Regions from separate parts of the Homo sapiens genome. Here regions 1 and 2 are each linked to region 3. The links come from fine-mapping of genetic effects on gene expression. A gene starts in region 3. Each other region holds a variant in brackets. All regions are shown on one strand. Distances are between the middles of the regions. Region 1 holds the start of BIN3-IT1 (BIN3 intronic transcript 1). Region 2 overlaps CCAR2 (cell cycle and apoptosis regulator 2). Region 3 holds the start of BIN3 (bridging integrator 3).

What was found. PIP is the estimated chance that this variant, and not a neighbour inherited with it, causes the effect.
Region 1: its variant is the best candidate, but not a certain one, in a credible set for the expression of BIN3 in whole blood (TwinsUK, PIP 0.65).
Region 2: its variant is the best candidate, but not a certain one, in a credible set for the expression of BIN3 in lymphoblastoid cells (GTEx, PIP 0.73).

What each region holds. Positions count from the first base shown.
Region 1 is chr8:22,637,287-22,647,409 of GRCh38, forward strand. It overlaps BIN3 (bridging integrator 3), which reads right to left. Exons shown (of 9, transcript NM_018688.6): 2 at 7,469-7,517. BIN3-IT1 (BIN3 intronic transcript 1) reads right to left here and starts at 4,923. Exons shown (of 1, transcript NR_027715.1): 1 at 3,085-4,923. The variant C/CT (reference allele first, on the strand shown) is at 6,050.
Region 2 is chr8:22,619,936-22,629,336 of GRCh38, forward strand. CCAR2 (cell cycle and apoptosis regulator 2) reads left to right here. Exons shown (of 21, transcript NM_001393997.1): 21 at 1-536. BIN3 (bridging integrator 3) reads right to left here. Exons shown (of 9, transcript NM_018688.6): 7 at 4,287-4,428; 8 at 3,980-4,114; 9 at 483-1,633. The coding sequence ends at 1,487. Among named protein-coding and RNA genes, the nearest start is that of BIN3-IT1, 18 kb to the right of the region's middle. RefSeq lists a silencer at 3,028-3,197 and enhancers at 6,521-7,154, 8,422-9,055, 9,056-9,401. The variant C/G (reference allele first, on the strand shown) is at 2,540.
Region 3 is chr8:22,664,562-22,674,684 of GRCh38, forward strand. It overlaps BIN3 (bridging integrator 3), which reads right to left and starts at 4,560. Exons shown (of 9, transcript NM_018688.6): 1 at 4,483-4,560. The coding sequence starts at 4,490. RefSeq lists a silencer at 4,260-4,419, enhancers at 4,283-4,912, 4,670-4,729 and a cis regulatory region at 8,419-9,268.

The DNA.
Region 1 (10,123 bases), 27 kb before region 3:
CAGAACGTGACTGGACCCCATCCAGGAAGGCAGCAGAGTGCAGAGGAGAGGGCGGGTCTGGAATTGGGGGTCTGTCTCTGCCTTTTCCTAGTTTCCAGGTCCATGCAGGGCACCTCCCCTCCTACGCGGCCCTCCACTCAGGGCCACCTGCCCCTGCTGGGCTCAGGGTGGGTCAGGAACAATCGTGCACCTGTGCTTTGTGATTGGGATGCATCAAACACAGACACTGTGACTACTGACTCAGGTCAGGCTCTCTCCATTCCCGACCGGGTATCAACTCTCTTGAGAGCCAGCAACACTGAAACCAAATGGGTGAGTCCTGAACCCGGGGCTGCACTTGTTGCGGAAGATGAAGTTAAGAAGTCTAGTACTTTCTTCTGGTGCCTTGACTTCACTATCTGTAAAACGGAGCCTCATGATTGGTCTCTTATGGGCATGCAATGGGAAGTAAATGACATCGAGAGGCAAAGGAGACTAAGCTAGAGGCCTGCCCTCCCTGGCCAGAGCTGCAGCCGTCAGGTGCCAGCTTCGGGCTTCGTGCTCTGAGAAGTCAAAACCGCTAACTCACATTCACAGAGCCCTCACTGTGTGCTTTACAAGAATGCAGTTCTCTACACTCATCTCCAAGGCAGGTCACCGGGAACCAGGTTACGTACCCTGGCCAAGGTCACCCCATTGGTGAGGGGTAGAGTTGAGCACAGTGGGAATGGAACCCAGGCAGCCTGGCTCCACAGCCTGTGTTCGTAACCATCATTCTCCTGGAAGGCATTTGCTGACCCAAGAAAGAAGTCTTCCTGGCTGCTCCCTGGGAATCCTGTCCCCAAGAGCCCTAGATCCTGACTTCTGCTCTGAGGGTCAGGGAGTACACATCTGCAGAAACTGTCAAAGCCACGCTATTCCTACCACTGTCTTCCAGCAACGCTGACCTGATGAGAGAATTCTAAGCCCCTTAACCTTAGCACTCCACGTTTGGATTTAGATTAATTCAACATAGCCCTGGAATGACAAAACAGCATTTATGCTACAAATGAGGAGCCCGAAGCCCAGAGACAGGAGTGACTTCCCTAAGGATGCAGGACATTCTGGTGGCAATGCAAGGCTAGAATCCAGAGTCCTGGTTCAGGTCTTTTTGTTTCAAATTTAAACAACATTCATTCCTACGAACATGTATGAGCACCTATTAAGTGCGATGCATTCTGCCAGGTTCTGGGGATACCCTGGTGATTCAAACAGACATGGGCCCTGGTGGTGGAGATAAACAACTGCCAGATACAAATTTACTTGCTGACTATGATGGGCCTTTTGGACAGCAGGAATGAGGCCAGAGAGAGTTGAACACAGAGTCTGCTTAGCTCTGGCTCTCTGGGCATGACAACAGACTCACTGCATGGAGATAGCTTACCTTCCTCATTTCAACTGTAAAATCCAGAAGCAGGAAAAAAATGATCTTTTCCTTACTTTATGATCCTAGCATCTAGAACCTTCCACAAAACTGTGAAGTAAAACCCACCATTGGTGCCCCCGCCTCCCATCCTACAATCTTTCTTCCTCTTTTCAACAGACTCTTTCTCCATCCAGGAACCCACTATTTTTATCATTACTTACCTTAGGATCCAGCAAAAGCTACTCGTAAGAAAAAAATTCAAAAATCACTCCCACTAAAGCACAAATGCTTGATGAGCATTTAAAGTGTTGCCTGTCCCAGGGGATTTACAAGTTTGCAGGAACCAAAGTCTTAGCTAAAGGAACGGAAAGACTCTGGTGTAACTGCAGGTGGGAAATTTGCTTTGGTGTGAAGGAGCCTCGCCAGGGCCCTTGAAAGTCTGTACTTTGGTGTCAGCCTGGTTTTCTCCAGCAGGGCTGGAAGAATGCAGTTTAGAGGCATGAGCAGAGACAGGTAAGATATGAACTCTGATACTAGCTGTGGAGACTTGATAGTACTAAGCATTTTTTTTTTTTTTTTGAGACAGGGTTTTGCTCTGTTGCCCAGGCTGGAATGCGATGGTGGCATCATGGCTCACTGCAGCCTTGACCTTCTAGGCTCAAGCAATACTTCTGTCTCAGCCTCCTGCATAGCTGGGACTATAGGCATATGCCATTATGCCTGGCTAATTTTTTAAATTTTAGTGGAGACGGGATTTTGCTATGTTGCCTAGGCTTGTCTTGAGCTCCTGGCCTCAAGTGATCCTCTTGCATTGGCCTCCCAAAGTGCTGGGATTACAGGTTTAAGCCACCTCACCCAGCCAACTTTAGGTGGCTTACGAGGAAATAGCTGATATCATCTACCCCAGTGGTTCCTTTTGAGGATTAAGAGGCAGTGCGTGTAGAGCAGATTGCAAGGTGCCTGGCCCATGGCAGTCCTCACTAAATGTTAGTTTCTGTGTTTTTCTCCTGCTCACTGGGGTGCTGGGAAGACCAGAGCAATTTGGGGCTGCAGGCTGGGCTATAAACCTGGGCTATAAGCTGCCCCAAGCACACAGGAAACTAGCAGCCAGGGAAACCCTGATGTTGGTTAAGGGTGGAGTCCCATGCTTGGGTGTTGTGATAATGCCCTAGCTCCCTTTACTAGACACACTTTTTTTTTTTTCTTTTGAGGCGGAGTTTCGCTCTTGTCACCCAGGCTACAGGGCAATGGCGTGATCTCGGCTCACCGCAACCTCCGCCTCCCGGGTTCAAGCGATTCTCCTGCCTCAGCCTCCCGAGTAGCTGGGATTACAGGCATGTGCCACCGCGCCTGGCTAATTTTCGTGTTTTTAGTAGAGACAGGGTTTCTCCATGTTGGTCAGGCTGGCCTCGAACTCCTGACCTCAGGTGATCCCCCCCGCCTCGGCCTCCCAAAGTGTTGGGATTATAGGCGTGAGCCACTGTGCCCAGCCTGCTGGACACATCCTTCTTCTTCTTTTTTTTTTGAGACAGAGTCTCACTCTGTCGCTCAGACTGGAGCGCGGTGGCACAATCTCTGCTCACTGCAACCTCTGCCTCCCAGGCTCAAGCAATTCTCATGCCTCAGCCTCCCACGTACAGCTGGGACTACAGGAGTGAGCCACCACACCCGGCTAATTTTTGAATTTTTTTTTTTTTTTTGGTAGAGATGGGGTCACCATGTTGCCTGGGCTGGTCTTGAACTCCTGGCCTCAAGTGATCTGCCTGCCTTGGCCTCCCAAAGTGCTGGGATTACAGGCATGAGCCACCGCGCACGGCCCACATCTTTCCTCTAACCTTGCAGGATATGACAGCTGAGCAGCATCTTTACTTATTAAAAGTATTTATTTCCAGAAAGAGAAAATTAAAACTAAGCACTACTTGGCCCAAACCAAACCCCTCTAGAGATCCAGAACACACAGGGGGCGCTCTTTGGGAGGGGTGCTGAGTGTTAGCTGAACCCCGGGGCCCTAGCCTTTGGCTCCCTTCCTCCCTTTTGCAATCCCCCAAGTGTGCCGATGTGTGTGGGATGTCAGACAACACCTGGTCTCCCTGGCTGGGGACTGCTTGGACTTGTACCGGGAGGGACTTCAGGTTTTCAGCTAGGTTGATCATCCTGGAAGCTGAGGAACTTGAGGTCTCACAATGAAGCTGAGGAGAAGGTCAGGGGTGGGAGCGCGTTTTCTACTTGGTGCCGCTCAAGGCCATCTGACAGCCTGAGAGGAGTTTGGACACATTTCACCTCCCCTGCTTCCAGCGGCCGGGGTGGGTTGCTTCTCTAGCTCACTGGTCCGAGAGTTCTCTCCTCCACTGGGGAAAGATGCACGGGGACACTGCCAGAATTCTAGCCTCTCAGATAATGGCTAAGGGACTAAAGGGACACACTGGAGCCTCATTCCGAGGAAAAGAGCCAGACAGAAAAGATCTGAACATCTTTGAATGCTTGATGCCTTTGCCAAAAAGGCAATTGGACCCCAGTCAACAATGCAAGTATAAACACATGTGCACGGACCATCAGGGGATCAGGGCAAGCTGGGCCAGGCTGGCGAGGTTAGCTCAGGGAGAACCAAGCCCCAGACGACTACCCGTGGCCACCCCCTGCATTCATTCTCCAAGGCCCACGGTGGGAGGAAAGGGTTTTGCTGTTCCCTGCTCTTTTGGCAGTGCACAGGTCAGGCCCTGGCACAGAGTGGGAACTCAGTATGAAGTGAATGAACAGGCTGAGTTCCCACCCAAACTTATGCTCATGGTGAAGTGAAAAAGGAAACTGGCAGGCAGGGCTGGGGCACTGATCCCAGGGCTGAGGTGCATCTGATCGGAGTCTGAGAAGCCCAGAATCCTCAGCATTCTGGGAAGCCCCTCCTTCAAGGGATGCTCTGCGTGGAAAGTGGGCTCCCTGTAGGTATGTTCTAGCAGGATTAAGCAGGATTAACGAGGCTAAGGGCCCCGCCACCTGGCAGATGAAAATCCTTCTCCAGTGGAGAGGCTGCATGTGGCCAGACTCTCTTTGCCCTAACTTTGCAGAGCACCCACCTGGCTAGGAACCTTGGAGCGCATGTTCCTTGTGTGCAAGACTCACAGTAACCCTTGTTTCAGGGGGACACGAAGAGCAAAGCTTCGAAGAGCTCTTCCATCCTCCCAGGTTATGGAGGAAGGTGTGGCGGCTTCTTCCTACGCTACGATGCTCCCGCCACTTTATGGGACCTGGGGAGTGGGAGGGGACTGGGTGGAAGGTTAGGATCGGGATCGGGGGAGCTTTTGTTCCTCCATCTCAGTTCTAATGGTCAGCCCCAGCAGGAACAAGCCATTCTAGCCAAAGCCTTGACAATAATGGAATTTGTGTTAATAACCTGGGCACAGGAGAGCAGTGAGGGTAGGGACACAATGCTTTCTTTGTGCCTGACAGTTGGGTGCCTTGAGCCAAAAACCTCCTGAAACTCCCTGAAGATAACGTGAGCATTTCTTCCCATGACAGGGGCTCCATGACTTCCAATAACCCAGGCAGCCACAGCTGCTCCCCTCCCTGAAAGTGCCTGGGCAAGAACAACAGAGTGCGTCACTGCTGTTCAAGGGCAGCTGCCAGAGATGCTGAGACAACTGCACAGCCCAGGCCTGTTTTGGGGGCCGGGAGGGGGTGGTGGGTGGGGAATGAGACTGAAGAGGCAGGGTCTTACTACTTCTACTTCAGTGCCTCTGGGGAGTGGAGGGGTATAGGCCAGGGAAGCAAATAACTACTCCGAGCTGTAGCTCAGCTGTGATTCCTTGTGAGAGATCAAAGGCCCAGCCGACTTTTGTTGCGTTGGGAAATCTAGCTGCCTGGGACAGGCTGAGTCCCTGATGGTTCATAAAGAAGGTCAAATCAACCAGCTTCCTGTGATGTAGTTAACTGGGGACTTATTTTGTGCCAGACACTGTGTTAGGTGCCTTCAGTGTATTATCTTGTGTGAGCCTCAAAGTAACATCTGTGACACAGGTACTGTCATCATCCTGATTTTATAAACGAGAAAATGAAGGCTCCAGAGGTTAAGGAACTTGCCCAAGGTCAGAGACAGCATGTGGCAGGGCCAGGATGGGGACCCAGGCTGCCAGCCTCCCAAACCTAGTTTCTTAACCCCTACCTGACCCCCAGTCTATCAGAGAGCAGATGCCATAATCAGAGGACCACAATTCCATCTCCAGCGAGACAGATGCGAGGAAGGGAAGAGGGATGCCCTGTGTGCATCTGCCCGCACTGCGAGTCCTTGCCACTCCTTAGATCAACGGAGCCAGAGATCTTGCCACCAACACACTGGCAAAGCAGCTGGTTTGTCTACACTTTCTGTGGAGAACAAAGTTCATTTTGATAAAGGTTGGGGTGCTGGGAGGGTTTTTGTTTGTAGTGAGCATTCAGAATAAAAGAACCCTCTTGAAACCACTTCCCTTTCAGATCTGTCATGGATTAAACTCTGGAGACTCAAAGCCACACCTTCCCACTTCCTGCAGCCGGCTAGAGACCAACATATGCACACCCAGATTCTTTGGACTTCAGCTGAGAGCCTCCACAGATGGTCAGCCTCTGCATGAGAGGTCAGCGCTGAGTTGGTCAGCACCCTGCCTCTGCATGAAGCAGAGAGGCCCCACCCCCCAA[C/CT]TTTTTTTTTTAACAGACAGGGTCTCAGTCTATCACCTAGGGTGGAGTGCAGTGGTGCAATCAGAGCTCACTGTGGCCTCGAACTCGTGCGCTCAAGCAGTCCTCCTGCTTTAGCCTCCCAAGTAGCTGGGACTACAGGCGTGCATATTTTTTGGTAGAGTCGGGGTCTCTCTTTGTTGCCCAGGCTGGTCTCAAACTTCTTGCTTGAAATGATGCCCCCACGTTGGCCTTCCAAAGTGTTGGATTACAGGCGTAAGCCACTGGACCCTGTGAGGGTGCTTTTAACTTGGGCCTGTTTCCTCTCAAGTGACCTTACTCTGGATTTGCTAGAGATGGAGCCATTGGTCAGATGTGTGCCAAACTTCTCACCACACTGAAGCAATCTCTTTCCTGTACTTTTGAGAGCTCTGCCAAGGAGGGGAGAAGCTAGTAAGACAAGGAGAACCGTCAGGGGCTGGGATGACAGACGAGGGCCTCTGCCGCCAGCACAGCACCGGACTTCCTGTAGCTGTCACATCAGAGAGGCTCTACAGTTGTGGTCTCCCATGTTAAAACCAAGAGACCCACTCAGATTTGTGGGTCAGGAGGTTGAAAAGGCTATTTTGCACCGGGATTCCAAAACACTGGGAGGGCTTCACTGCCCAGGGAAGCATGAGGCAATGGAAAGAGTATCAGCCAGGGGCTCACGCCTGAGTTCTAACTCCAGCTTTGCCAGTGTGGGGTTTTTATAACTTGAGGAAGTCATTGCAACTTTCCACGGGCCTCATTTTCTTCATCAGGAAAAATCAGGAGGTTGGACTAGATGGTCTCTATGAGCTTCCAGCTCTAACTTCCTAAGAATCTATGATTCTCTTCCTTTCCCATTCTGGAGATAAAAACTTTCTAGGGATAAAAACTGTGGGCTTAAAGGGGGGTGGGATTCAATCTTCCTTTCCTGCTGAGTGACTCTGGGTCATGGCCAAGAATGCATTTGGAAGTTGACACAAACAGGCCGAGGCCACTGGGAAAAGCTTCCTGGAGTTTTCTGCAGCTGAGGTAACAGAAATAAATGCCTGGGCAGTGTCTTTGGTGGGGGCCACTCTTTCAGGAACACTCTTAGGAAAAGTATAGACCACAAGCCAGTCCCTAGAGGTGGACCGTTCTAAAGCAATATCTTCCTCTACATTTTTGTAATCCACCCATTCCCCCTGCCCAAGGATGATAAAGAGCCCAGGCTAACCTTTCCTAGGGGAAGTGTCCCAGGACAGGAGGCCCCTCTAAGCCTCAGTCTATGTGAGGTTCTAGATCCGCATAAGCAGGAAGAAGGCCCAGGTTGCTGTCTTCCCAGCCCCAAGATGTGTTGATTCAAAGCTTTGATTCTTATGCAAAGGCCATGTGATACAGAACTGAATCTCACAGCAAAACAATCGAGTTACTCACTGTTTTGGGCACAATCTGTTTCTTGGGCTGCCCAATCTTAAAAGGAATCCTATAAGAGAAAGAGACAAAGAGAGATATTGTGAGAAGTGGGGAAGGATGCAGCTCAAAGTATCAGTACAGTACAGGCCACTTTCCCCCAGGAGGGCGAGGAAGCGTGGCCATGGCTTGCTACTTGGACCATGTGCCCTGGTGGGCATACAACCATTGGCATCTGGGCTTGGTTCTAAGAGAGAGATAGGTCCTCCCACCTACAGTGTCAGATGCAGGTTGCTCTGCCCCAGAACATCTTTGCTACTGATAGTCTGTCATTTAAAGAAAATGAAAAGGTGAGGCCAAGGAGTTTGAGGCTGTAGTGACCTATAATTGCACCACTGTTCTCTAGCCTAAGCGACAGAGCAAGACCCTATCTCCAAAAAAAAAAAAAAAAATCCGCTGGGTATGGCAGCTCATACCTGCAATCCCAGCACTTTGGGAGGCCCAGGTGGAGGACTGCTTGAGCCAGGAGTTCAAGACTAGACTGGGCAATATAGCAAGATCCTATCTCAAAAAAAAAAACACAAAAAAACAACCACCAAAAATTAGCCGGGCGTGGTGGCACATGCCTGTAGTCCCAGTCACTTGAGAGGCTGAAGCAGGAGGATCACTTAAGCCCAGGAGTTTGAGGCTGCAGTGAATTATGATCATACCACTGCACCCTAGCCTGGGCAACAGAGGGAGACCCTGTCTTTTAAAGAGATAAAGGAAGGGAACAGAAGGGAAGAAAGGGGAAGGGGAGGGGGAGGAAAGGAAAGGAAAGGAAAGGAAAGGGGAAGAGAGGAAAGGCGAGGATGGCAGGAAAGGGAAGACACCCGCGAGGATGGCAGGAAAGGGAAGACACCCTGTGAATGACAATAAAACCTTGTGTCTTGAGGAGGTGCAAACTCAGAAATTACAGACTCACTGTAATAGCTATCATCCTTGAAATCACGAATCATTATGGTCTATATTAGGTGCTTTGCTACTTCTCTATAGAGGGGCAAACTTTGGATCTGCAAATCTTCTTTGGAGGCTGGGGAGAGTTAATAAATAACAGAGGCATTAGTGATTGGCCGGGCTGGATTATTTCCCTGGGAAAACTCACAAAATCAAAAAGCTGCTAACTTGGAAAATAATCTGAAATCCAGCCCAAGTCTGCCTTGGACTTGCTATGAAGAGCTGCACCTCAGATTCCCTACTTTACAGCATGGCACAGCGGAAGGAGGATCATGGGTCTAGGAGTCTCAACCTGAGCATTAGCCTGGCCTCCGCTTCCACTGAGCAGGCTGCCCTTCGGCAGGTGACGGCTGCACTGGGACTCCATTTCCTGCTGCATAAAACGAGTAGATTAAACTAGGTAATTTAGGAGCTTCCTTGAGGCACTGAGCATTCTATGATTCTCCAACTCCAGGAAGAAAAGAGGCCAGGCTAGAAAGTGCATCCCAATGGCTATGGAAAGGGTAGACTCCCGATCCCAGGTAGGAAGTGAGTCAAGAATCCCTGCGATCAGCTCCGGCAGAGGGCTCTCAGCCAGCCATGCTCATCCCTCTCCTTTTGGCTCTTCCATTCAAACCTCCCGTTTCCACAATGCACCAGACCCGCTCCACCAGGCCCACATCCCACCCTTCCCTCCACACCCCCTTCTCCCTGAGCCTGCTTTCCTTTGGCCCAAACTGACCAACACACTGTTGCTAAACCCAAGGGTGTAATTAACCACCGATAATGACCCCAAACAGTGATCCAGTGGAGGGGATGGGCCAGCCTGAGTCACAGTGGTTTAAATTTAATTTCTGGAGGACATCCTGTTTATTGTTAACCCAGCCCCATAATTTGGGAGTGTTAACCCTTTGGGGGCTGGCTGATTCGCATCTTCTGTAAACAAATAAATTCTGACTACATAATAACCAGGGAGGAAAGGTAAGGTCTGGAAATGAAAAGGAAAGAAAAAATGAAATTGTTGCTTCCTTTCTCAGACCTAAACAGAAAAGGTTCACGGGGAGATGGGTTCCTTCCCCACACCCTGGTTACTTTTCCCATTCTCAGGGATTACAGCTGACAGACAGGATGGTTTTTGGACAGTGAGCAATTGCCCTCAAGGACCATTCTGGAGACAGTGCAAATGAGGTCCTGGTGGCAAGGACCACTCTGGAGACATTGCAAATGAGGTCCCAGTGGCATTGCAGACAGACAGCCTGTATTCTGTGGGAAGCATGCTGCAGCTGAAAGCGCTCTCGACCCGGTATCAGAAAACGTGGCCTCTGCCTCCGACTCATTTTGTGATTTGAACAAATCTCAATCTCTCTGGAGCCCAGTTTCTTAAACTATAAAACAAAGGAGTTGGAATCCCTTCAGCTTATCTAAAACTGGAATTCTAAACTGAATCTCCACTCCAAGAATATGGGGAGTAGGATGAGAATTCTAAAGAAGTCTCAGAGTGGTCTTCAAAACGATTCTTGGAGTTTAGTACTGTAGACAAGGGACCAAGAATCAGAAACGTAGATTCCATTATTTGTGGTGTGACAGCCTCCCTCTAAACCTTAATTTAGTATCACGGTATTTTTAGAACTGTAAGTTACCATAGAAATTTTTTCCCCAGTTCAACCCTCTCCTTTTGTAGATGAGGAAGCAGATCCAGAAAGG
Region 2 (9,401 bases), 45 kb before region 3:
CCCTCAACCTTGGTATTTCTCCTGGGGCCCTTTTAGTCTTGTGCTGACTTTCTCCTGTCCTCTTCCAGTTTAGAATAAGACAGGGGAGAAAAAGGCTTTTCGAGTGTGGGACAAGGTCTGATGTCAGTGAACGGAACTGAAGAGCAAGACATGGAGCCTGGCTGGGGCTAAGCAGCCCCCTCCTCCGGATGGCACAGGCTCTGCTAGGTTCCGGACACAGGCTTCTGGGGGAAGGGTCTCCCTTGGCCATCACGGGAATGGAGTCCATGCTAGAAAGAGCTCAGTGTTGGGCTGGGTTTGCCAGTAGAACACTGCGTTCCAGTCACCCCGGTCTTGCCAGAAGAAACCAGCACCTCTTTCCCGTGGCTCCTGTGTTCAGAATGTGGTATTGGCTCTGGCCCAGCCTTCTCCCCTGTTACCCATAATTCTTGCCTCTTTCCATAATCCGTGGTTTCAGTTTGACTTTGTATATAAAGTTGGGGTTTTTTTTTTTTTTTTTTGGCTTGTTTTTTAAATAAACCAAAGTCAAAAACAAACTGAGAGTGTGTCCTCCACAGCTCTTCCTACTCTCCTAGGCTTGCCCGCGTGCCCTCCCACCCAGCGCCTCTGCTGGACCACGGTGCAGTTCGCTCCAGAAGGTGGGCCAGGGCCGGGGAGGTGCGCACACACCCCTGGCATGCTGGGCTGCCTGCTGGAGGGTGCTGCTGCTCCGTGGAGGGCAGCAGGCCCAGGAAGGGGTTTCCTCTGCTCGCCTAAGTTACAGCACAATACTATGTGGACGTTTCATTGAAAATTTTACTTGAAAAAATAAAATTCCAGATACTCAGGTGAGACACAAACCCACTGTTCCTGCTTTGAGACCTGTGAATTCTTGTGGGACAGTTCCACTGACAGCTTGCGTTCCCGAGGTACCAGTCCTCAGTGACCTCGGGAACCCCAACCACTTAGGTCCCAAAGCCACAAGGGTGCCCTTTGTCTTGCTGGGAAGCTGGCTGAGGGCCTGCCAGGGCTGGAGGACCAGCTCTCCCGCACAGGGTTCAGGGCCTCTCCCAGAAAAAAGAGGTTTTGAAGTGAAAAGGCAACGAGGGGCCAGAGGGCTCCCCAGGATGGGTCTTTTGGAGGTAGATTTGATGCCCACAACGCATGCAAGGCTAAGACCCCCAACTTAGCCAACGAAGCCCATGGCCTCAGAAGGGCTGCAGCTTGCTCAGGCCGTGGGCCAGGATGCATGCTGGACGGTTCTCCAAATAAAAAAGCCCCAAGGGTTTGTCTACACTGCTTACCTGCTGGGGCTGTGAGTGGGGAGACGGCGGCCTGCCTAGGGCTCCTGGTGCCAGGCTCAGGAAGAGTCATTCATTGCAAAGGGCCGGCAAGTGAACCAGGGCCACCTCTGTCCCCAGCCTGTGAGAGGAGCAGCTAGCCCTGAGAAGGGCAAGGATGAATGAGGCTGACCACGTCACAGGAGTCCTCCAAGAGTGACGGGGATTCAGTCATCGGCCACAATGGAGAGGGCCCGGAGCTCACTGAGTTTGGCCTCGTTCTCCCGCTCCCGCTGCTCATCGGAGTGGCCTGGCTGGTCAAGCTGATGGGACAGGTCTCCAAAGATCTTGTGCATTTCCGAGTAGTACACAACCTGGGGGAGGCGACAGGGGTTGGCACGTGCTGGCTCCAGGGAACCGTGTGCTTCAGGGGGCCAGAGGCTCACACTTCTCTGCTACCCCCTGCCCTTACCCATCTGGAGCTGTGCAGCAGCGTGCCTTTGGGGATATGCAGGGCACGGAAGGGCTCTAGCTGAGACTGAACCAAAAGGAGCCGGGGAGCAACAGGGCCTCAGTGGCTGGAGGTGGAGGCGCCCCTGCTTCGGGCTCCTGGTTCCCCCAGCAGCAGGTGCAGGAAGGCATGGGCCTCCTAGGGCGACTGTGGAATGATGGGCACCATGACTGGAGTTTTACTGCTTTTTGTAAGCTAGGGGAGAACCCAAGGCTTTTGTCCATGGCAGAAAGACAGCATGGTAGGCTGATGGCTCCCAAAGCCCTAAGCCAGCTTTAGAGGCACAGGCAAGAAAGGGGATGCCCGTCTAGCCTTCTGTTCCCTCCCAACTTGCATCCCACCCTTGCTCATGGCCCAAGCTGCGTGGCCAGGGGGACAGCTCAGAGGCCAGGTTCACTGCCAGGGTCCCTCTAGGGAGGCACCAGAAATGGTGTGGGAGGGGACACAGGGTTGAGGGTGGGGCAGGTGGAGGAATGGGGAAGCCCGTCAATTCTCCCAGATGGCTGAGGACCAGGGGCTTTTCCACAGACAATAGGGGCCACTTCTGCCTCAGTTTCTACCTCATGACCCAATGAAAGCATGCAGTTTCCTGAAAGCTTCCACGTTTCACTCTAGACATGAGGAGGAGCTCTAGACACTAAGGGGACCTTGTGGGAAATGCCAGGTGGGGCGGGGACCCACGGCTGATACTCCTGAGGCGAGATTTCCGCCGGCCGAGGGGGTGCTAAAGTGAGCTGGTCTCAACACACTGCTGTCACCTCTGGGCTGG[C/G]GGCGGCCCACCCTGCCCCCACTCCCTGCCCAAGCCACTGTGCGCTGAGTCACTGGGAATACTCACTTCTCCATGACTAATGGCAGCCGGGCGGGCGAGGGGGAGGCTGGGGCCCAAGAGGCAGTCAACAGCCCCCAGCAATGCTGCCTGGTTAAAGGGCATCCCTGGCCTCCCATCTGCTCCAACCTGGACACGCGGGAGCCTGGCACCCTGTGGCTTCCTCCTGTGAGCAACAGGAGGGAGGGTGCAGGGCAGCACCCAGGTGACAGTGAGGAAGAGGCAGGCCCAGGTCTCCCGTGAACCCAATGGGGCGGCTGGAGGGAGCCCTCGCTGCAGGAGCAAGTGTCAGGAGAAGTCCCTACCTCCTCCTGCAGAAGGCTCTAGGTCTCACTGCCCCCTAAAGATGGCACAGGACCAAGTACGTGGGTCACTGACAAGGTCCCGCCCCGGCATGAACCCTGCTCAGGTGTCCTGACTGGGGCAGGTGGCCACCCTGACTTTGGCCCGGCAGGGTGGGTGTGCACTGGCCAGGCTTCACGGCTGCGACTACGGGCCTGCAGGAAATGGCCACTGGAGGGCGCCAGACGCCCAGCCACGCTCAGACCACCCGGGCCAGGAGGGGCAGAGCCACAGGGACCTGGCAGGGTGCCACGGGTGTTGGGGTACTAAGGCTGTTGCTGAGCGCAAGCCATCAGCAGGGTCCTGTGTGGAAGGGACCCGCTTCTGGCATGGGTGCCCACCCTTTTCTATTTTGCCAGTTGGGGGAACAATCCTTCCTAAAGGCTTGAAGATGGAGGAGGGTGAGGAGCATGCCACTCCGTGTCCTCCCGTCCCCGAGTGGAAGGAGACGCTGGGGCCTGGCCCGTGTCTGACCCCCAGTGGCGCCCCCATGCCTCCAGGCCTGCCTTTCCACCCCAGGGCCCTAGGAGCAGCCCTGATTGTGGCTCTCCCCAGGGCTCTGGAGCCCCCTTCCTTAGTGGTTCCAAGGCAGGACTCCCGCCGTTTCCTGCTAAAAAGACTGGCTCACGGTAGGCAGGGGAGGGGAGCTGAGTCCTCAGAAAAGGCCTCCATTCTCCAGATCCCTTTCTTCTCGGCACCACCCTGGGCCAAGAAACCGCCCACTTGAGGGTGCGGGGCAGAGGAGCTACTTATAGTGAAATGTAGAGAGATCCATGGCGGAACTGCTGGACCAAAAGGGAACCTCGGCCATTCCTGGTATGGGATTTACCAGAGAGCAATGTGAGGAGTCTAACAGCAGACAGGTCCCCCAAGTCGCTGAGCCTGGGACTCTGGTAATGGAATGAATTCCTTCAGGGCTTTGCCTGGGGTGGGTGCCCTGTCTTTACGGAGAATGGCTAAGCCACCCTTCCAGTGTGGGTGACAGGGAGTGGCATGAGCTGTGTATACCAAGCCCAGGGGAAGAGCACCTGGCGGCCTCACCTGAGCTCGGATGAGGGACTCAAAGCTGGGCTGGAAGTAGTCGAGGCGGCTGCCGTAGAAGCGCGGCATCTCCTCCAGCAGCTGCCTGTTCTTGGCTTCAAAGTCCTCCCGCACAGGCCGCAGCTCCTCTCGTGCCTAGGGAACAAGACCTGGGTGTCAAAACTCTCTCACTGCTGGGTGCCGGATACGGGATGGGTGGGGTGGGGACGTCTGGTGTCTTGGTGCCCCCAGGTGAGGGGAGGGACTTACCACAGGTGACCACGATGGCCCACCTGTCTAGCCCCTGCCCACCTGTCTCCCCTGGTACCTGGTGGAGCTTGGCCAGCACTGGCCCCGTCTTCTCCTTTTCCTCATACTTCTCCACCTTGGCCTGCAGCCTCCTGTAGTCCTGCAAGGCCTGTTCCCGCCTCTTCACAGCCATGTTGAGGCTCGGGAAGACACTGCCGAACCTGTGGGACAAGCTGGCTGGAGATGGGCCCGTTCTTGAAGGGGTGGCCTGGCTGGAGATGGGTCTGCTCTTGGAGGGGTGGCCTGGCTGGAGATGGGTCCGCTCTTGGAGGGGCGTCCTGGCCAGCACTCACTTGTCCAAAAATGTGCCCTGAGCACCTACCAAGCGCCAGACCCTGCTCTAGGTCTTGGGGAGTTCACTGTGAACAAGACAGATGAGGCCCTGTCCCCTGGAGCTTGTGCGAACGTGGACAATGTCATGGGGTGAGGGCAGATGAGAGGAGGTGGGGTTGTGGGCCAGGTCCAGGGAGCTGGGTGGCACAGGGTGGCCCAGGAATGAAGGGTGCCCTGACCCCCACCTCCTGTGAGCTTTATCACACAACGGACTAGGGGATGGTGGGGAAGGTGCCTTGAAGTCATCTGGCCAACACCTCACTTTTAAAAAGGAGGGAAACTGAGGACAGAGAGAGATGACCTATGACTCATCCAAAGTCACGATGAGGCAGAGAAGGTCTAGAAGAGAACACAGGTGTCCACATTCTCTGTCTGGCACCCTTTCCAGCCCTCACAGTGCCACTGGCAGGTGGCAGAACTGAAATCTAAACTCACCCCTGCCCCAGGGCACCTTCTCCTTCAAGGGCTCCTTGGCAACATGAAAGCAGCAGAAATCCTCTGGCTCTGCCATTGGAACCGCCAAAGTTCCAACCAGCTGCTTCAGGAAAATGCCCTGAGGACCTCCACTGTGACTAGAAGGGACCGCGTGGGAGACTCAGAGGAGTGGCCCTCAGAGAGAGCAGCAGTGGACGATGCAACGCTGCAGGTCCACACCGGCCTCGTCTTTGTGGATCATGTGTCCTCTAGTGACCAGGAGCAGTGCTCTCCTGAGGCTCTCGCTGCTGCTGCTGGAGGGCTGGCCCTCGGTGCAATGGCAGGGGGCGTCTACCAGGCAAGCCAGAGCCCTGCAGTGTCCAGGATCAGGCTGCGCAGCCCAGGGAGCTCATGACTCTGTGGCCATTCGGAGGTGACCCAGGACCAGAAGAGTTGGTTCCTCCTGGACATTTTTATGAGGAACCCAGAGAGGAGGAAAGACGAGGGCAGGAAGCAGTTACTGAGACTGGGATCATAGGCACTCAGAGTTGAGAGGATGCTGGCAGACTCACTGTCAGGTTCCAGGAGCTCAGCTACCACACAGAGCAGGACTCCCAGATGTGCCTCTCAAAGGACATGACCAGGAATTTGGTTTTGAGACAGAGTCTTGCTCTCTCACCCAGGCTGGAGTACAGTGGTATGATCTCTGCTCACTGCAGCCTCCACCTCCTGGGTTCCAGCAATTCTCATGCCTCAGCCTCCCGAAGAGCTAGGATTACAGACGTGTGCCACTACGCCCAGCTAATTTTCGTATTTTTAGTGGAGACGGGGTTTCACCATGTTGGCCAGGCTGGTCTTGAACTCCTGACCTTGAGTAATCCACCCGCCTCAGCCTCCCAAAGTGCTGGGATTACAGGCGTAAGCCACCGTGGCCGGCCTGTTTTTAAAAAGCCTCAGCAAATCAAGTGTACATTTGAGGTAAGAGTAATGAACAGTTTTGCCAGGGAGTAAGAGGATATTAACTTTACCAAAGCATTAAATGCCCCCAAACTAAGTCAGACCCAGGGAGTAGATTTTGATGAAACAAAGGGCTTATCCCCAAGACAGGAATCCTCTACCTCAACAGTGTCCATAAGGGGCTCCCTGTCTTAACAAGGTGCTAAGTGGGTGAAGCCACCAAAGCACCCTGAATGCTCACCCGTGCCCTTAGACATAGTAATCAAACCAGCATCTGACCGACTTGCCGGGCAGAAGCCATGGGCCTCCCAGGACTGTGCACAGAGAACGCGGGCCCCTCAGCACTACGGAACTGAGGGTGGGAAGCAGACACCACCAGGATGCATAGTCGCCCATGGCGTGGGCTGGGGTGAGACTGCTGGGAGGAGCTAGACTTGATGCTTTGCCCAGGGCGGCTGCGTGGTGGAGCTGCAGCTGCTGGGGAGCCCTGCCCCCTTCCTGGGCAGCTGAGAGGCACGTGTTCAGGCAGCAGGTGCAGCTGGGCCTGAGAGGCTACCAGGCCACCTCTCCCTCAGCCCCAAATGGCCAAGGGACCACCGGCAGCTACCCTGGTCCTCGCCCTGATCCTTGTGTTAGAAGCCACCTGCTGCTTGGATGGTCCCAGTGCCTGGGCCTTGTGGGTGCCTGGGAGCTGCCGGGTAGGTGCAGGCGCTGGGACAGGGCAAGGATGAGGCAGGCAGGAGGCAGCAGGTGGAGAGCTCTCTGGCCCTGGCCCCAATCCCACCACCCTGAGCTCACATCCTCAGGAAGGAGGGCATCACAGCGTGAAGCCGTGTGTGCGCAAGGTGGCTTCCACGGTGCAGGATGGGAGGAGCCCTATGCTCGTTGCTCCAGCAGCCTGACCCCCCAACATCCCCTGAGGCACTCTCATAGCCCCCTTCCCACAGCTGTCGGCTGGGGCTTATTATTTCCTGTGCCAGAGTCAGAGCCACCAGGAGCGCTGACTACAGCGGAGTGCCGAGCGGGGGTGAGGGAGGCCGGGTTACAGAGCTCCTCGGGGGATGGCGTGGTGGTGTCTCCAGGTGGCCACCTGGCTGCATGGGCTCCTGCCAGCCCCCTGGAACCAAGACCACCTGCCTCTGCAGGCCGCCTGCCCCAGTGGGAAGAGCATGTCTTCACCATGAAAACCTCCGTTTCCCATGACAGCACCCCTTAGCCACCAAGAGGCTCTGCCTGCTCAGGCCACTGGAGGTGATTGCTGATAAATTACAACCACGGTGGGGGGAGGTTGGGTCCTGGGATTGGGATTCCCTAGGGGTAGGGACAAGTGTCACACCTTTCTACATTCAGTGGGAACTCACATCAGTCAGGGCAGGGCGCAGCTTGTGCCAAGGTGGCTGAAGAGTAGTGGACCAGGACTCTGTCACATCTGCCCTGGTCACTCACTGACCCTTTGAGGCCCCATCTCCCCGTTTTCTACTTCTTAGCAACAGAACAGACTTTGCCAAAGCCCCGGGGTGGACAGTGGATGTGCCACGGTGCTGTGTGGGATCTCAGGTCAGGGCTCAGGCTGCTGGCAGGGGAGGTGGAGACGTGCACAGGCTGGGCGCCTGTGCCAGCCCCTCCCAGATATGTCCCTGGGACCCCACAGAGGCCCTGCTGACTCTACCCAACCACACTGGGGGAGCCTGTCCCCAGGCGTGAAGCCAGGACCCAGGCTCCACTCTGCTGTTCCAGCGCACTTCACCCCTCCTCTCTCCCTGCCCACCTCAGCCCACCAAAACCTCCTCTCCCACTCCTAGGTGCTGACTGTCCCATTATGAGAAGTCAGTTTGGCTTTCTCTTTCCACATGTGAGGAAACAGCCTCCGAGGCCAGGTGGGGGCAGGTCAGACAGCCCACCGAGCATGCCCCGCTCCATGGTCCTGCACCACGCTGGCAGCTGCCACACCTGGCCGCTGACCTGAGAACACGCTGTGGCTTTCCACTAGACTGTAAGCTCCTGAAGTCTGTTTTACATTTATCCTCAAAGAAGGGGGCCGGGCTGGGCCCAGGCCAGTGATCAAAGCATTACCCATGATCACTGCCCAATTCTTGTCTGTCCTAAGGCTCAATATCAAACTCACTCCCCTGGGGATGGGAGGGGCGAAGAGGAGAAGGAGAGGGAAGGTGAGCGAGGCCGGCTGGGAGGTGGGCTGGGCGCAGCCAGCACTGGTGGGGAATGCCTGCCATGCCTTGGTCTGTGCCCACGCAGCCGGGAGCTTCCACCCACCAGGAAAGGGAAATTGAAAGCATCCCCATCCGACATGTGAATACGGCCCAGAGACTGGGGATTAGAGGCCGAGCCCCTGCAGGGAGGCTGGGGGCGGTGGGGTGGCCATGTGGCCGTGATCTTCATCAGAGGACAGGAAAGCTGGAGTTTCCTGTTTCCGGTGCTGGGGTCCCTGGGAGCTTCTCTTCTGGCAAGAGGAAGCCAATGGGAAGAGGCTGTAGGCTGCGCGGTTTTATGTGGTTGGGGGAGATCGTATGTCAGCTGTGGGGATGCAGGGAGAAGCCAGCCAGGCAGGCCTGAGGGCTCATGCAGAGGTCAGCGGATCCGCTGCGGAGATGTGCGCCCCCTCTGCCACGCCCCCACCTTCCTGGCAGGTGGTGGGCCACCAGGGTGGTGGGAAGTGGCCGGGGTTTCTCTCCATTTGGGCTTCAGAAGCCAGGGATCAGATTTCAAGGGCGCCTTGCTGATACTGAAACTGAGGTGGGAGTCAGTTCCCCAGTTCTCTGAGTCCCTGCCTCATTCTACCAGCCATGGGTGCCTGTGGCAGCCTCTGTGTCCGTCTCTGGGACCCCTGTGGCCCTGGCACAGAAAAGCCCTCTGTGGGCAGGGTCTGCTCAGTCTATGTCCTTCCCAACCAGCCCTGAACAGTCTGTCCCGAAGCCCAGGACCAAAACCCACAGCCACGGAGCTCTTTCTGCACCCCAGCTCCCTACGCAACCCTGTGGCATGGGGCTGCGCTGTCCCCAGCAGGCAGGGGGTGGTGGATGCCCACTCTGGGGAGGCTGGGGGGCCAGGGCCGGAGCCGGAGGCACAGTCCCTTCCCTCCCTGCCTTCGCTGAGCCTCCACGGTCCTGGCTTAGAAACAAGAGCTTGCTAGGGTCAGGCGGGCCTTTTCCTAATCCCATACTTCAGGCCTGCACAATCAACGAACAGCTCAGCAATCCGAAACACCAGGGGCTGCAGGATCAAAAACTGCTCCTCTCATTGCCGTGTGGGCCCTGGGCCAGGCCAGTGATAATTAGGCAGAGCCTCATTACCCGGCCCTGGCAAGGCACTGCCTGGGACCACCGCAGAAGAGGCAAGGAAGTGCAGCTGGGCGAACAGGAGCTTTCTAGGTCACAGCCTGCTCGAGAGAGGCCAGGGAAGATGAAGTGATTCG
Region 3 (10,123 bases):
TGTGATTCACTACCAACCTGCTAGTGTCAACACACCTTAGCAAAGTGAAACTCCGTGATCCAATCAGCTTGGGAATGGTCTGCTACTCTTCTAATATTCCTGATCATGGGGACAGAATACTCAGGAGACACATTTTAGTTCTAGTTCTTCCAGGTACTAGCTGAGTGAATTCTAGTAAGTTACCAAGGGGGATCATAAGACTGCACTGCTTGCGCAGACATAAGCATGAAGTCAGACAAAGGACGGGAAAGCCATCTGAAAAGTTAGAAGCACTCTACACATGTGAGACAGCAACGGTAATCATAGGGGAAAGGACTTCACTGAGAAAAAAACTGAATAATGGTTTTGTTTGACCCAGAAGTTTACCTTCTTTATATTCCATTCATTTAACAATTACCTGTTAGATACCCACTATGTGCATGATACCCACTATGCGTACAAAAAGATGAAGAAGCTCTATGTCGCTCCTGTTCTCATGGGGTTGGTGTGGAAGGGAGGTGTACGTCTGTGATACTCAGAAGGATGCAGAAGTGCTACAGGAGAAGCACTATGGAAGTACAGAAGAAACCCAGCAAAGCACTTTGGAGTGGAGGATCAGAAGGAGTGGGGAGGAGAAATCACAGGCAGCCTGACCTGGAAGCCACTTGTGTCGGTCAATTTAACAATAGTACTTTCAGAGGCTCTTCATTTTAGGAAGTGGTTTGTAGGTTCTGCAAGTTTTTATCTTAACATTTTTCCTGAGCTGAGGCAAGTCAGGAAAAGGGAAAAAAGGCCCCATTCATATATTTAATAAACACTTCCTGACTGCCAGGAACAGTGCTAGGGAATAGCAATGACCACAAGACAGTCCCCATACTCAAGAACTCACAGACAAGTAAACCAGCCAGCGGAGTACAGATGCTGATGAAGGTCAGAAGAGCGGCACCCAGTGCAGCATGGCAGGGTGTGAGGGGCCACTCAGGGAAGACCCTCAGAGAAGGTGAAGCGTGGCCTGACTCTTGAAGGATGAGTAGATGCTGGCCTAGTGGACAGGGTGTGAGTGAAGGGGAAACATTTCAGGCAGAAGGGACAGTTATCCAGAGGCACATGGGCACGAGAGAGCAGGAGAAGCTTGGAGGATGGAACACACGGAGTGAAGATGGACAGCCAGGCCCAGAGGGCCTCAGAAGCCCTGGCCCAGAGTTGGGCCTCTATCCTGAAGATGATGGCAAGGGACTACAGGGTGAAAACAGGAAAGAAACAAAAAGGATCAAACATGAGGAACACCAAAGTGTGAAGGGCAGACAGAGGTAGAAGACCCCGGAAGAGTCAGAAAAATATCACTCCACTCATTTCACAGCAGGCTCAGGTGGCAAATTGTCAGCAGGAATGGCCACTCCATGCTACAGATGGAGAAACTAAGACAGAGAACAGCTCAATGCTTGACCAGGCCGCACTGTGAGTGGCTGAGCCAGAACCTGAACGCAGCACTCTAACTCCTACTCACACTTACCTGCTCTGCCTCTAATTTCCTTCCTTTTTGTCAAACTACTGGACCCCTAGGTATAGGGAGATTTCTTCCAGTACTCCCTTTTCCTCCTCGTTTAAGCCTAAAATCATCAAGGTGTATGGTTCAACAGGAGGCTACAATTCCTGGAGCCAGCTTAGATTGAGGTCACTATTCTTAATTCTACTTAATCCTCTCTCCATACCATAATAAAGCCACCTGAGTATACACTGGAAGATGGGGAAGAGAGACAGGAAGGGGAAAAGGGAGACAAGAGGGAGACAGAAATAGGGAGGGAGGGGGTGAGTGGGGAGGAGAGGAGAGAAAGTTGGGAGGGGGGCAAATGGCGGGGGGAGGTGGGGTGGACAATGGGAGAGAAAAAGAGAGCGAGAGAGAGAGAAGCATTTGGCTTGAGGCCAAGAAGTGAATCTGTGATCTGAGATGTGAATATCAAATGCCTTCTTCCTAGTAGGACAGACCACCGGGTCACTTTTCTGAAAGGCAGATGGGTGTATGGGGAGTGGATGGGTAGATGGTGCAGGAAGGCAGCAGGTACCCACTAAACAAACAGGGGGTGGGCGGGTTGCCTGCACAGAGGAAGCAGAGAACAAAGGCCTCTCACTCTTCATGCAAAGTCCACAGTGTGCAAAGGGCATCAATATTGGACATTTCTCACTGTGACATTTTGAAAGCTCAGCCTAGCCCAGAACAATGGTTACCCTCTGGGGACCATGGGCCATGTGCCTTATTTAATGATGGCTTGGCACAGCCCATGTACTTGGTGAACTTGACCTTGGGCATCAGCCTCCCATGATGGCTCTACGTCACTCTGGTCTCTTCCCCTAATGAGAATTCCAGTCTCACATGAATGGATGGATTCATTCTGGGGGCAGGAAAACCACTCAGGGAGTGAATCAGAAGGACCCAGCCCCGGTCTCCTTGCCAGCCATTGAGCTAGGAACTGAGTGTGATTGTGTGCCCAGGCGCCGGTGCTGTTCCCGTCTTTGAGAGACAGGGTCAGGGTCCACGCAAGAGATGACGTAGAAGCCCTTTAAGGGGGAAGAGAAAGGAATCTCAGCTTTGAGGGACAAAGCCACCCTTCTGGCTGTGACTCTCAGTCCAAGGAGATACCAAGATGTGCATGTACTGGTAAATTAAAGCTACTAGATGAAAATCTCAGCTCTTGTTAGACAGTTGTCAATCTCAATTCTCTCCAACCTGACAGGATAACCTTTAAGGAATGGGCTACTATTTTTTCAGAAGGGAAACTTTCTGTGAGACAGGTGGAAACAACCTGCTTCGGATCACCCAGAGAATCATTTACCTTTATTAGTTTCTGCTGTGCTCTTCTCCCAACTTGTGAAGGAAAGATTGGTTCAGTAAAGGCCAATCTAGGCAATATAAAGCATCTGTACTGCCTCATTTTCACTTTGAAAAATTAGGTAAGAACACTCCAAAGATTCAAGACGCAGCAGCCAAAAGGATATCTATATTGCAAGACTGGGGGGCCCAGAATGACACTGAAAGGACGTAATTCCTCTGGGAAAGGGAACTGAAGAATTGCCGCTTTGCCCACCACTAACTAGGTTATAACAAGACAGGGAAGGTAGCTTTTTAAGGCTCCAGCCCCTTATTGGCCTCCTGGAGCAAATGGTGGAGGGAAAAGCAGAAGCTCCTGCCGGGGCTTATTAGGACATTGCTTCAGGCTTTCCTCCCGTGCTTGCGGTGATTGTCTGACATTTGTCCATCAATCTTGGTCTAAGAAACAGGTGGGGGAGGGGACAGATGGTTCGCATTTTACTTTAGAGAAGTATCCCTGACACTGACTGATATCAGCTGCTTGCGTTCTCCACTGATGGCCAAAATTAAGCTTCAAAAGCCTTCCTGAAGGACATTCTGTTATCTTAATTCATTCATAACTGGTTATCATGCGCTTTGCATAAACAAACACACTAGCCTCTGAGGACAGAGTGGCAAATATGTTCCCTATGTCCATGGGCTGATTAATCTTGTACATCTCTGGGGCTCAATTTATTCACACACTATAGTTGAATCCCCTGAGGTCCAGGGTTGTGGCTATATAGGTCCTTGGGCCTGACGGTAAGGTAAGGTGCTGCATATGAGTATTCTCTAACCTCTAAGAAAGCCCCAGGAAGGCAGGCAAGTCACAATTCTCTCCTGTGAACATAAATAATCGAGAGCAACAAATGGGGATTGCCTTTTGGGCAAACTGAGTCTTACAAAATAAATACACCATTATGAAGTGTCTACTATGACCCAAGTATCACATCATACTGCAGCAACTGGAATTGTGACTCTATTACTCTAAGACTCCCTGGCTTCTTTTCTCATGGCATGATAGTTCCCATAAGTTTAAACTTAACCATGCCTATTTAGAGGGCAGGCAGTGAGTAATAGCTCTGGAATGATTAAAACCAGTCCAATCCCACAGTGGAAGGGTGTGTGCGGAGTGTAATTCTGGCCCCTTTAAAAAGAGAAGCAAGTTTTCCTTGTCTTTTGAAGCCTGCTAAGTCGTGCAAAGAGGATAGTTACCCAGAAGGGAGTGGGTTTTGATTAGTGAACTGGGTCCAGGCTGCCACAGCGAGGGCCACAGCTCTGGAGGGACTGGCGCGGGGCAGAGATGCCCACAGGAGAGAAAGACGACACTGACTCCACCTCAATGGGTGTTTAAAAAAGGAGGGAACAAGGAAGTCCCTCACTTCAAGGAGCTAGGAGGACGCGAGTCCGGCAAAACGGGTCAGACGCGGAGTCCCAGGCTAAGAGGATCATCCGCCACTCTCCCCGGGAGTCCTGCTGAGAGACTGCGACTCCGGAAAGCACCGAGGGAACGACCCTAGGGCAGGGGCTGTCGGGCCTTGCTCTGGGGCGGAGGGGTCGCGCGGGACCGGAGGGAGCCGGGACGCGGCACTGACACAGGGCCAGGGGCCTCGCGGGTCCGCGGGTCCAGCAGCTCCCGCCGCCTGGGCCTCACTCACCAGCTCATGGTCCCGAACCTGCGTCTGCCGCCGGGGTCCTCAGCCACAACTCGTTTCTCTAGGGTCACTTCCGGATTCAACCAGTCTCCAGGAAGTGACGTAAGCCCGCCTCTCTGCCCGGAAGAGGCGGTTGGGAGGCGGAGCCCGGCGCGTTAACCCTTCTGCTGCTGCGTGCTCGCCGCGGAGTTTCCCTTGCCGGCGACTCTCTGGCTCTGGCCAAGCGCTTAGACACACAGGCTGCAACGGGGGATGAGGGGAACCTCTGGGGGCGTTTTCTGCCTTCAACACTGACTCCTAAAGATCTCTTCACCTGACCATGCAGGGCCCTTAGCCGGGCTGTCCCCTCTGTCAAGTGGTTTCTAATCCAGAGACAGTGGCAGCAATTGTCTGTGGGAGAAGAAGCCATTTGGGATGGAGAAAGTGGAAAACTTACATTCTCTGAATGCTCTTTCCTATCTTTTACAGTTTGTACACCACACATGCATTACCTGTTACAAACAAACGGACGTTTCCCTTCCAAGATGGCACAGGGCTCTGAATATCAATAGATAGGTGCTTTTCAGGTTGGAATGTTTCCTAGAGTTATTCAACACAATAAGACGCAGAGTATGAGTTGTTCCCTGCCTTTCAGCCCTTCCCTTTGGTCTCCTCTACAGGACTCAAATGATGTAAATTGCCCCATTCGTTCTATTCCTTCATTTAACTAATACTAGTTGCACTAATATTAGTGTCAGGTACCGAGCCAACCTTAGGATACAGCTATCTCAGAGAAGTATCTGCCCTGCTCTTGTTCCTTCCCAGAGCTACTTTCCTGGAGGGAGAGACAAGCAGGCAATTATAATCATGCTATAGGATAGGATAGAATGAGGTGTGGTGGCAGCCTAGAAGGGGACCCTGAAGTAGCACATGGGGTTTTGGGGAAGGCTTCCAGGAGGAGCCAGTGTGTAAGCCAAGCCCTGAAGGCAGAATCGGGGCTAGCCAGGTGAATCTGAGATGAGGGGTGACGAGGCTCCAGGCAGAGGGAACTTACCATGGCTAAGACACAGACAGGACCAAGCAAGCAGCTGACTTGCCTCGGGTCTCCCAAAGTCAGAATTCAGGGCCTTAGTGGCTCACAAGTTGCCTGGGATTCTGGGCCGACTTGGTTTCCTCACCGCTAAGTACCTCCCTGCCTTGGAAGAGAGACAAGAAGGCAGTGAGGCCCGTGCAGGTGCTGCTGGGCCCCCAGTGACCTTCTCTCTAGGAATTCTCCTTCCTCAGATGGACCGGGATTGTTTCAGGGACTGCTTAGGGGGTTGCTAATCAATGACCTAGCGGGAAAAATATGACCAATGACCTAGAGCAGAAGTAGTGTATGATTTGTTTTGACCTCCTAGGGTGGAGTAGAGGGCTTGAGCAGGAGAGGTAGGAGGGTGGGCCACAGGATGCAGTCTCTCATTTGTGTTTTCTGTTTCCATTCTTGAGAGTCCATAGTTTGACTCAATTGACGTTTCCAATGGAGGTTGGATCCCCAAGCACATCATGCAGATCAGCTTCATTACCATGTTGTTCCTCAGGAAACAGGCCAAAATGAGCACAAGAGCAGCCTTGAAGAGTAAAGAGGAAGAGCAGAAGTCACCAAAGGGTAGCCTGGGCAGAGAGTGTGGGTAAAGGGAAAGAGAGAGTCCTTGCTGCTTTGCAGAGAGTGTGACGGATGGAAGGGCTGTTGTGGGTTTAGGAGCCTCCTGGCAGTTAGCACCTGTGAATAGTTTTCCCACCTGCTTCCTCCCTTCCCCATGTTCTGCCTCCCTCAGTTATGCCCCACAGGGATAAATATTTCCAAACGTTTTAGCCTAGGTAACTGCTATATCCTAGTAGAAGTCTGTTTCAGGGCTGGAGGGCAGCAGACACATCCTAGAGGACTAGAATGGATAAGTTCTGGACTACAAGTCTGGAGGAGTCTGCGGCTCTATTTCCAGTTCAACCTTTGACACTATAACTGACCTCAGATAAGTCACATCCCCTTTGTGGCCTTAGTCCCCTCATCTATAAGATGGAGTGGGTAGATCACATCCCAAAGTATCCAACATTGCAAGGTTCCAAGTCAGCTGTCTTGTTGACTCTAGAGGCCCTAGGGAAATAGGAGAATGGGAAAGGCAGGTGAACAGAGGGGCAAGCCCAGAGAAGTGGGCAGGTCTGAGGAACTGGTGATATCTTGGATAAAGCTAAATATGAATTTTTCTGGGGCTGTGCTGTTGACAGGTCACCTCGAAATCTTTAATGCAGCCAGCAGGATCTTTGAGGTTACTAAAAAGAATGGTGTCCTCCCAGGAGTCTGTCTGGAATGTGCCTGCTTGGTCTCCTTACCTGTGGCTCATTCGCTCAGCTAGAGGGGCACTGGGCTGAGGAGGGACAGTCAGGCATCCTGCTATCCTGTGTTCCTCCATGAGCCTGCTGTGCCATGAGGCATTGATCCCTGGGGAGCTGAACATGGAGACACACAAACACTTCCCACTGTTGTGAAAAACTCAGCCTGCAGGGTCGGGAGCTATGTCTTTCTTATTTATAACCAAAGGGACAGCATGATACAGATTGATCCTGCCCCTGCAGGGAAGGAATGGAAAAGAGAAAATTGGGTTTCTAAGTAGAAGCTGAGAGTGGAGGCGCTTTGGGTAGAGGTGGATACTCCTGGTTTCAAGCCTTGTAAATACTGATTCTTCCCCAGAAGTCTGAGCCTGAAGGTAAAAGACTGTTCAGGTGGCAGAGGTCTACTTCTGGGACAAAGCTGTTTACGAGGGGAAAAGCAGCAGCAGAACCTGCTCCACCATCAGCCCCCAACTTTTCCTTGGAGGTTTTTGCTCAGAAGTTGGTAAGCAGGTGCTTCCCACTGACTCTCATCTCTGGGATTGTCATGTCCTGTCTCTCCCAGCCTTTCCCACACAGAAGTCTAGGGCTGGCCCCCGAGTCTTTCACCATGCCAACCTCTTATTAGTGAAGAGTGAGCATTCCCAGAACCTGGACCTGGGCTGTCAGGGACTTCATTATAGCACTGGGCTAAGGCTGAAAAACTGAATGTGATAGGGCCAAATTGGTGGGCTCAGCTCTCTTGGAGCCCTAAAGGTCTTGATTCCTCAGGGAGGCTCCTGCAGATATTCAGACACAGGCCTCAGGTTTCTCTGTGGCCTCACTGCCCCACTTCTCCCTACTCTGTACCTGCTCAGTAGGACGTCTCAGAAAAATAGCTTTCCCAGGGCCTTTGGGGGGCAAGGACATAGGAGGAGGAGCAAGGGTGGGAGAAGAAGGAGGAAATCAGGGTGAGATTTCCAGTGGTGGGAGGCCCACACGGACTGCTCAAAGGTCAGGGTGAAGTGACACATCAGAAGCCAGGACAGCAAGAAGCGAGCAGAACCAGGAACGCCTGTCTGACCCGTGGCTCTGCCTCCAAGTGGCTTGAGGGAGTCTTGTCCCTCCTCTGGGCCTCATTTTCCTTGACTGCAATGGGAAAGGTCCAGGTTAGATCTGGGAGGGCGAATGGATATCATCCCATGTGCCAACTCTGATTGTCTGCTTGGAATGCAGTGTTGAGGATTCTGGGGAATCTGCCATCAGTGGGGAAGTTCTATGATTGATTAGTCATGTCTGCCTTGGACAAGAAAGAGCGATGAGATGGTTTATATTCCACTTTATTGTTATTATTTTTATTATAAGTTAACAATAATTGAGCACTCATGACATGACAGGCACTATTCTCTGCAGTTCACATTTAATCCTTGCCTCAACCCTGTGAGGTGGATACTACCATTATTATCATTTCACAGATGATGGCGCTGAAGTATAGCCATGAAGCAATAGTATAGCTTCATGAAGCAGTGAAGTGGGGTTTCTGACCTGAGCACCCTGGCTTTGATCCTTATGCTTTTGCCACTACAGTTTGCCATTTGACCTCCAACAACCTTTGGTTCTGTCAAGGCACAGTGAGGTCAGAAGCCAGCAGACAGATGGAACCAGGAGAAGCACCGCTACTAAATGGCCAGGTTGTGGGTGGAGGGAGGGCCACCCTATGACCAGGGTGCCAAGCTCAGCCTCATCCTGGGAGCTTTTATATGCTTCCTCCAGTACGGAGAGTGCCAGGCCAGCAGGTGGCAGCACCGGGCAGGGTGACAGGAAAGGGCAGCTCCTCACATGGCATGGACGTCCTTCAGGGATCAGAAGGCCCAGATGCTGGGGAAAGCAAGAACAAATGCGGGTGTGGAGGAAGGATAGCCAAGGACCCAGAGGAGGAGGAGTCCTGGCCTCTGACCTGCAGGAGCTGCCACAGCCAATGCTTTGGTTCCACCCAGCAGTGCAGGCCTCTCAGCTTGCATCTCGTGGTGCCTGCTGTGGGCTTTTTTTTTTTTTTCCTCCACTCTGGGAGAATGACTAACTTTAAGGACTAAAAAAAAAGTGTTTTGATTACACTGCCTTTTTACCAACTGGGAGCATTAGTCACCGTGGATTGCTGCAGATAACGGGGAAGGCAAGCAGCACCCCCTCCTCCCCCTCCTTCTCTCTGATTAGCTCACAGAAACCAGGAGGAGACATGAGTGAGGGAGAGTGCACCAGTAGGGAAAACAATCCCCCCGGGTTGATATGTTCCCTGGGCATCAGGCCAAGGGCTGTCCAGGCTGGGCTGCCCCCTGACAGGTAGGCTCTAAGATGGCCCCAGACCCACAATAGGAGGTACCCACTGGAGAGAACTGGCAGTAGGACCACTGAGTCCAAGGCTCCTGAGATTCTGAGTTGGGTCTGGATGGTCTGTTCCTCCAGGTAGCTCCAGGGCACACCCAGAAGGGGAAGTCAGAGGAAGTCACTGAAGACACAGCTCCTGAGCTGGGGCTCAGGATGTCTGTGATGTGGAGCTCATGCCAGGCTGTGGTATGGCTAAGGCCGCTGCCTTGAGCTGGGGCCCTCATGGCTCTACCTGGGGTTGAGACATTCCTGGCAGGTGAGGTTGGTGCTCATGCCCCACTCCCCACCCTTTGGCCTTCTCCCTTCTTCTCCATCTCCATGGGGCAGTATCTAGTACTTTTGGCTGATGTTCCTACCCAGTGCGGCCCTCTTTGCTCCCACCTTGGTGCTGGTGGGGCTGGAGAGCTGAGGTTCCAGTCTAGCCTGTTGGTGCAAGGTGTCAGAAGTGGGAGCTCTGGGCCCTGCTGGGGAAGGCACTGAAGCAGGGAGAAAATGGTGCTGGGTTGCCTGGTTGCTTTGGGGGCAGGCTGACCTTGTCAGTCCTGGTCTTTTGGCCCACCCCTTCATCCCATTCACCACCCACCCCCAAATGCTTCACTCTGGAAAGCAGACATTTATTTATCTGAATGGCCTTTCAAGTGACAGGGCCATGAATATTTGTGTAAAGAACTTCAAGCATTAGGACAAATAACCTTTTTACTGTAACAGGAAAGGAAGAGACAGAAACATAATTCGATTTCTGCATCTCTCAAGATCAGAGTATTTCATCTGGATGTTGCTGCTGCTGACTTTCTCTTTGGAAAATAAAGTAGTCACAGGTATTTGGTGTGCTCTGGCCTCAAAAAGCTTTTATGGTACCACCTTACAGGAAATGAGGTCAAAAGAGTGGGAGTGGGTGCTCCTAGATGGAGAAGGTCTGTGAGATGCCCCACTC